2 separate regions of the Homo sapiens genome follow, and region 2 is linked to region 1. Evidence: fine-mapped expression QTL. A gene starts in region 1. The other region holds a variant in brackets. All regions are shown on one strand. Distances are from middle to middle.

What was found. PIP is the estimated chance that this variant, and not a neighbour inherited with it, causes the effect. A credible set is the group of variants that fine-mapping cannot tell apart.
Region 2: its variant is the best candidate, but not a certain one, in a credible set for the expression of CDC25B in adrenal gland (GTEx, PIP 0.77).

The regions. Positions count from the first base shown.
Region 1 is chr20:3,794,571-3,797,472 of GRCh38, reverse strand. CDC25B (cell division cycle 25B) reads right to left here and starts at 1,163. Exons shown (of 16, transcript NM_021873.4): 1 at 742-1,163. The coding sequence starts at 941. RefSeq lists silencers at 572-779, 846-1,025, 1,066-1,135 and enhancers at 1,366-1,525, 1,436-2,167.
Region 2 is chr20:3,759,977-3,762,878 of GRCh38, reverse strand. It overlaps ADISSP (adipose secreted signaling protein), which reads left to right. Exons shown (of 6, transcript NM_001258429.2): 2 at 2,693-2,797. The coding sequence starts at 2,779. Among named protein-coding and RNA genes, the nearest start is that of ADISSP, 6.3 kb to the left of the region's middle. The variant C/T (reference allele first, on the strand shown) is at 1,300.

The DNA of each region.
Region 1 (2,902 bases):
GGTCAAGGAAGGTTCATTCTACAGAGGCCCTAAAGCGTCTTCTCTTCGTTGACTGGTTTAGGAAAGGTCCTCTCAGGAGCAGGGCAAGGTGAGCCCAGGGTGTGAGCAAGGCTGCCTGGCTGGAGGCCAGCCTAAGGGTTGGTGGTCTAGCAGAGCCGCCCCAGAGAGCCTTCCCCTAAACTGTCAGACCCCCACCTTTCCAGGACCCTTCCTGAAGGATGGACCAAGACCAGGTTCTCCTACTGGAACAACCCAGCTCTCCCCTTGCAGACTTAGGGAGCAGGATCAGTGTTTAATTAATTGTCTTAATTCTGGGGGCAGAACTGGGGTGGAGGGAGCAGGGGCATGGATGTGTGAGTGCTCCACGGCTCTGCCACCCTTAAGTTCCCTCTCCAGGCTTGAGATTCCCATCCTGGGGCAAAATGGTGGCTATCCGGGCAGAGATTACGGAGGCAGCGTGGTGGAGGCACAATGAGGGAGGAGGGAGTGAGGGGAAAGAAGATTTGGAGAGGCTTGTGCAGACTGAGAGCAGGTCACCTGGAGGTGTGGGGGGCACAGCCCAGGTCTCACTTCCCATGTCCTGGGCCCCTAGGAGGGAACAAGGGCGTACCTCTCCACTGCTCAGGATGCCTCCCCGGACTCCACCTCCTGGATTCGACTACCATGCCCAGTTCTCCAGGAGGCCCAGGACTCCAGACCTAGCCTCTCACCCCCATATGCAGCCTCCTTGGGGTGTCCTACCTGCCGAGCCCGGCGAGGTCGTGCATGGTCTGGGTGAGGGTGGTGACCGGCGAGGAAGCGGCCGCCCGCACCGGGGACCCCAGGAGGCCATGAGATCCCAGCAGGAGGCCCGGGAGGTGGCCCGGACGCTGGGCGCCACCGCACACGCCTGCTGGACTGAGAGCCGAGCCTGGCGCGGGCTCCGGCTGGGGCACCTCCATCGCGGCGGGGCCGGCAGAAGGCTGGCTGGAGGGCCGGGCGCAGGGCAGCCAACAAACGCCGGCACAGCTGGCTGGGCCGAGGGAGGCAGCGGGCGAGGGGTGGGGGGGGGGGGAAGGAGGGAGGGAGGAAGAGCCACAGGGCCAGGCGCGAGGGAGGAGAGGGATGCGGGGAGGGCGGGGGGCGAGGGACGCCGGGCTCAGGCACCAGCCAGGGAAGCCTCTAGTTGCAGCTGCCACTTCCACCTCCTTATATATTCGAAAAATAACAGCAGCCGCGCCGCCGGACGCCACCAATGGGGTAGCGGGTTAGATGAGGGCGGGACTGAGGGCGGGGCCCGCAGGGCAAGAGGCGCGGAGGCTGGATTTCCAGGCTTTGGGTGGGCCGGAGGAATTAAGATTTATCCCACACCCTCGCACATCCCCCTGGCGCGAGGATCCCGGCCTCCCAAAATCCGCCTCTCGCGACATGGTTTGGAGCTCCACACTCCCAAAGGCAGCAGCAACGCCCTAGGGTGGCCTCCGCAGGACCCCCCGCGGCATGTCGTCACCTGGGATCACCGCTAGGGATGGGGAGAGGCTCCAACTGGCTCCCGGAAGTTTGCTAAACCCAGCTGGGCTGTACGGTCTGCGTTAGACACCCCATTTTACAGACCTGGACGCTGAGGCGTGAAGTTCATTAACTCAATCAAGGTCACGCGGTTGGGCAGGCGGTGGGCCAGGATTCGCTCGCTCCAGGCGCCTCTGACCGCGCAGCCTCCCCGCCTCCGCGACTGGCTGCGCTGAGCAGCAGCAAAACGTCATTCGCAGGAGAAGCGCCCAGCGTAGGAGGTGGGAGGGCAGTGGGGCCCCCAAGCGGAACTGATGGGCTCTTTCGCGGGACCCCAGGTTAGATGTTACCCCAACCGGCCCAATTTTCGCGGCAGCCCCAGGAGAGGCTCTAAACGGTGGAACTAGGAATGGATTTCCGCGGCTGGGGGTCGAGGAGGGTGTCAGCAACCAGAGAGGCGAATTAAGTATCACGCCCATTGATGATTTGGCTAACTTGGTGCCAATGGCACCATATTATTTAATTGGTGTTTCTTTGATGACCAGACCAGGGAGGCTGAATTTGTCATTCGTTTTAAGCGGAGCAGCTTCCAATTATCTTTCTTTTTGTTTTGTTTTGTTTTTTTTGGGATGGAGTCTCCCTCTGTCAACCCGGCTGGAGTGCAGTGGCCATCTCTGCTCACTACAACCTCCGCCACCCGGGTTCCAGCGATTCTTCTGCCTCAGCCTCCCGAGTAGCTGAGACTACAGGAGCGCGCCACCACGCCCAGCTAATGTTTGTATTTTTAGTAGAGACGGGGGTTTCACCATATTGGCCAGGCTGGTCTCGAACTCCTGACCTCGTGATCCACCCACCTAGGCCTCCCAAAGTGCTGGGATTACACGCACGAGCCACTGTGCCCGGCCCATCTTCCAATTATCTAAATGCCTTCCAGCCCCGCTCGTTTTCCAGGCCTCCTGGAACAAGAGGCCTGAAGGCTGCACCCAAAAGCCGGTGGGTAGTGAGCAGCTTTCGCATCCTGTCTCCCCAGGTTAGAAGTGGCCTCTGGCTGGGCGGGTGGTGGTGCGGGGGGCGGGCTGCAGCTCAGCAAGGCAGGAGTACCCCTTCTCGTGCAGTCCCAGCCACCCAGACCCAAGGTGCATTGGATGGGGGTGGCAAAAGGGAGGGCCTGGTGATGGGGGGCTGGGTGGGCCAATGCATCTGAAGGGTAGGGGAAGACCCCAGCCCCACCTGAGAGGGGTGGCCAAGGTGGGAACGTGACCTTTCCTTTTCTCCAAATTTTGCCCAGCTCCTGTGCTGTGCAGAGGGCTCTGCAAGACTGAATTTCCGGTTCATCCTCCCTGGGTCAGGGGTTATGCCCTGGACCTCCAGCCACTACTTCCAGTGAGGATGTGACTGCCCTTAGTGCCAGGAG
Region 2 (2,902 bases), 35 kb after region 1:
CCTGAAGATTATCCTTTTTTGGTCTGTTAAGTGTGTGTTGATCTAGAACAAGGGTTGGCAAACTTTTGCTCTGAAGGGCCAAATAATAAATGGTTTAGACTTTGCAGGCCATATGGTCTCTATCATAACTACTTGGAAGTAACTTTGTTTTAGTGCAAAAACAGACAACATGTAAGTGAATGAAGTGTAGTGTTCTATTAGTAAAACTTTATTTGCAAAAATTTATTTGCCAGGCCTGGCGGCTCACGTCTGTAATCCCAGCACTTTGGGAGGCTGAGGTGGGTGGATCGCTTAAGCTCCGGAGTTTGAGACCAGCCTGGGCAACTCTGTCTCTACAAAAATTAGCCGGGCATGGTGGTGCGTGGCTGTGGTCTCAGCTACTTGGCAGGCTGGGGTGGGAGGATTGCTTGAGCCTGGGAGATTACGGTGGCAGTGAGCTGGACTCCAGCCTGGGCTGGACAGAGTGAGACCCTGTCTCAAAAACAAAAACAAAAACACAACAGGCAGCAACCTTACCATCAGCTGTGTAATCAGCTGTAGTTTGCTGCTTTCCTATCTAGAATAATCTCCCTCGTTTTATTTTTCTTCTTTCTTTTTTTTTTTTCTTGAGACAGAGTCTCGCTGTGTCACCCAGGCTGAAGTGCCGTGGCGCGATCTTGGCTCACTGCAACCTCCGCCTTCCGGATTCAAGTGATTCTCCTGCCTCAACCTCCCAACTAGCTGGGACTACAGCTGCCCGCCACCACACCCGGCTAATCTTTGTACTTTTGGTAGAGACTGGGTTTCACTATGTTGGCCAGGCTGGTCTTGAACTCCTTACCTTGTGATCCGTGAAAGTGCTGGGATTACAGGCGTGAGCCACCGTTCCCAGCCTGCTTTCTTTTTCTTCTTGACATTTGAAAACAAAAACAAAAACAAAAAACAGGTCAGTCATCCTGTAGAATATCCTGCCTTCTGGGCTCGTCTCATTGCTTTCTCATGGAGTCATTAAATTTGTTCCCCTCTCCTCTGTGTTTTTAGCAAATGAGAAGTTGAAGTTAGAGGCTGGTTTAGATTCCAGGTTAAACCTTTTTGGCAGGAATCCCTTGTCAGTGATGCTGTGACTTTGGGCTGCCTTACTTCAGGAGGCATCAGTGTGACAGGCTGTCCTGCAGAGAGTAGAGAGATAGACCAGTGTGTGACTGGGAGAAGTCACATACCTCCATTGCAAACTTGTGCCATTCCTCTTAAACACCAGGTCCTCGGCCAGGCATGGTGGCTCACACCTGTAATCCCAACACTTTGGGAGGCCGAAGTGAG[C/T]GGATTGCTTGAGGTCAGGAGTTCGAGACCAGCCTGGCCAACATGGTGAAACCCTGTCTCTACTAAAAATACAAAAATTAGCTAGGCGTGGTGGCGGGCGCCTGTAGTCCCAGCTACTCGGGATGCTGAGGTGGGAGAGTCGCTCGAACCCAGGAGGCAGATGTTGCAGTTAGCCGAGATCGTGCCATTGCATCCCAGCCTGGGTGACAAGAGTGAAACTCCGTCTCAGAAAAAAAAAAAAAACAAAAACCATACCAGGTCCTCTGTCAGTGACGCTTGGGCGCCTGTGAGTATCTGCTTCCTGTCAACCTTCCCCTCTGGTTTAGCATCCACTGGTTCTTGTTGCCTCCAGCATTTGTTCCTTTAGGGGTTGCAGAATGACTTAGCATTTGGTCATTTCTTTGTTATTTATTAGCAAGAATTCTTTCCGAAAGAAGAGCTTTCCATCAACCACCAGGGCAATTTGGTTACAAGAAAGGCCAAGAGACAGGCTGAATTCTTCCTCTTTAATCCTCAGCTTTCAGAGTAAAGAGGGCACTGCTACCGTCAGTGGTGACAAATGAGGGCTTTTGAGGGCTTGGGTTTGTTTGTTTTGCTTTCTCTCTTCTTTTCTAATAATCTCTGTGAATGCACTGCTTTTATGTGTTCCATCTGTTTCCATCAGTTGCACTCATTATTCTTTTTGATGCTCAGATGGTCCCAGCTCGGCCCATTGGAGGCTTCCTGGGGCGCCTCTCACTGCCCCTGTGCTGAGGCTGCCGTTGGGGAGCTGAGGCGGAGGCAGGCCTGAGACTCAGGGCAGGGTCTGAATGGGGTTCAGGTGGGGGCACACCCCCTCCACAGGCATCTGTTTTGCATATGGCCCTGACCGATCACCAGGAGGGAAAGCTCTAAGGGCACGCTTACTTTATGTGGTCCCCTGTTCTTGCCCACCATCGAGCACCCTGTTGCCTCTGACCGCACCCAGCTGCATTGCTTGTGTGACCTGAATAAGGTAGCTCCAGGCCCAGCCTTTGGGGTCAGCAGCACCAGAACTGGTCCCTGGAAAATACCAATAAAGTCCTCCTTTCCAGGCTGCCCCTCCTGCCAGTCTCTGGGGGTGCTGGGGATAGGAGTCCTATGCTGTTGCTTTGGCACCTAGAAGCTGCAGCTCAGCACATGCTGGCAGGACCCTGAGTCACTGGGGTATCAGGAAGGGGTGAGGGCTCTTGGTGAATGTGGGCAGTCGGTAGAGGGTGGGCAGAAGCCCCCGTGCTAGAGAGTACAGGCACCACTTGGGCTGCTGAGAGCGGTAGGGGTTTGAGTCCTTCCTAAAGGGAGCTCCTCTGGTGTCCCTGAGCCATGGGTCCATGAGTGGCCCTGACCCCTGCCCTCCCCACTCCCTATCCTTCAGGCTCCCGCTGGTGTCCCTGGAGCATGGGAGGCTGCTGAGCGTGAGTGGCGGTGTCTGGCAGGAGCTGCGTGGCAGGGAGGGCGTCCATGGCTGCAGCCAACAAGGGTAAGTGCCTTCCTGGCGTGGTAGGACTTGCACAAGCTCTTCCGGTGGGCCCTGGTAGGAGGGCCATTGCTGCAGGTAGGGCCCGCACCACCTGTGTGTGTGTGT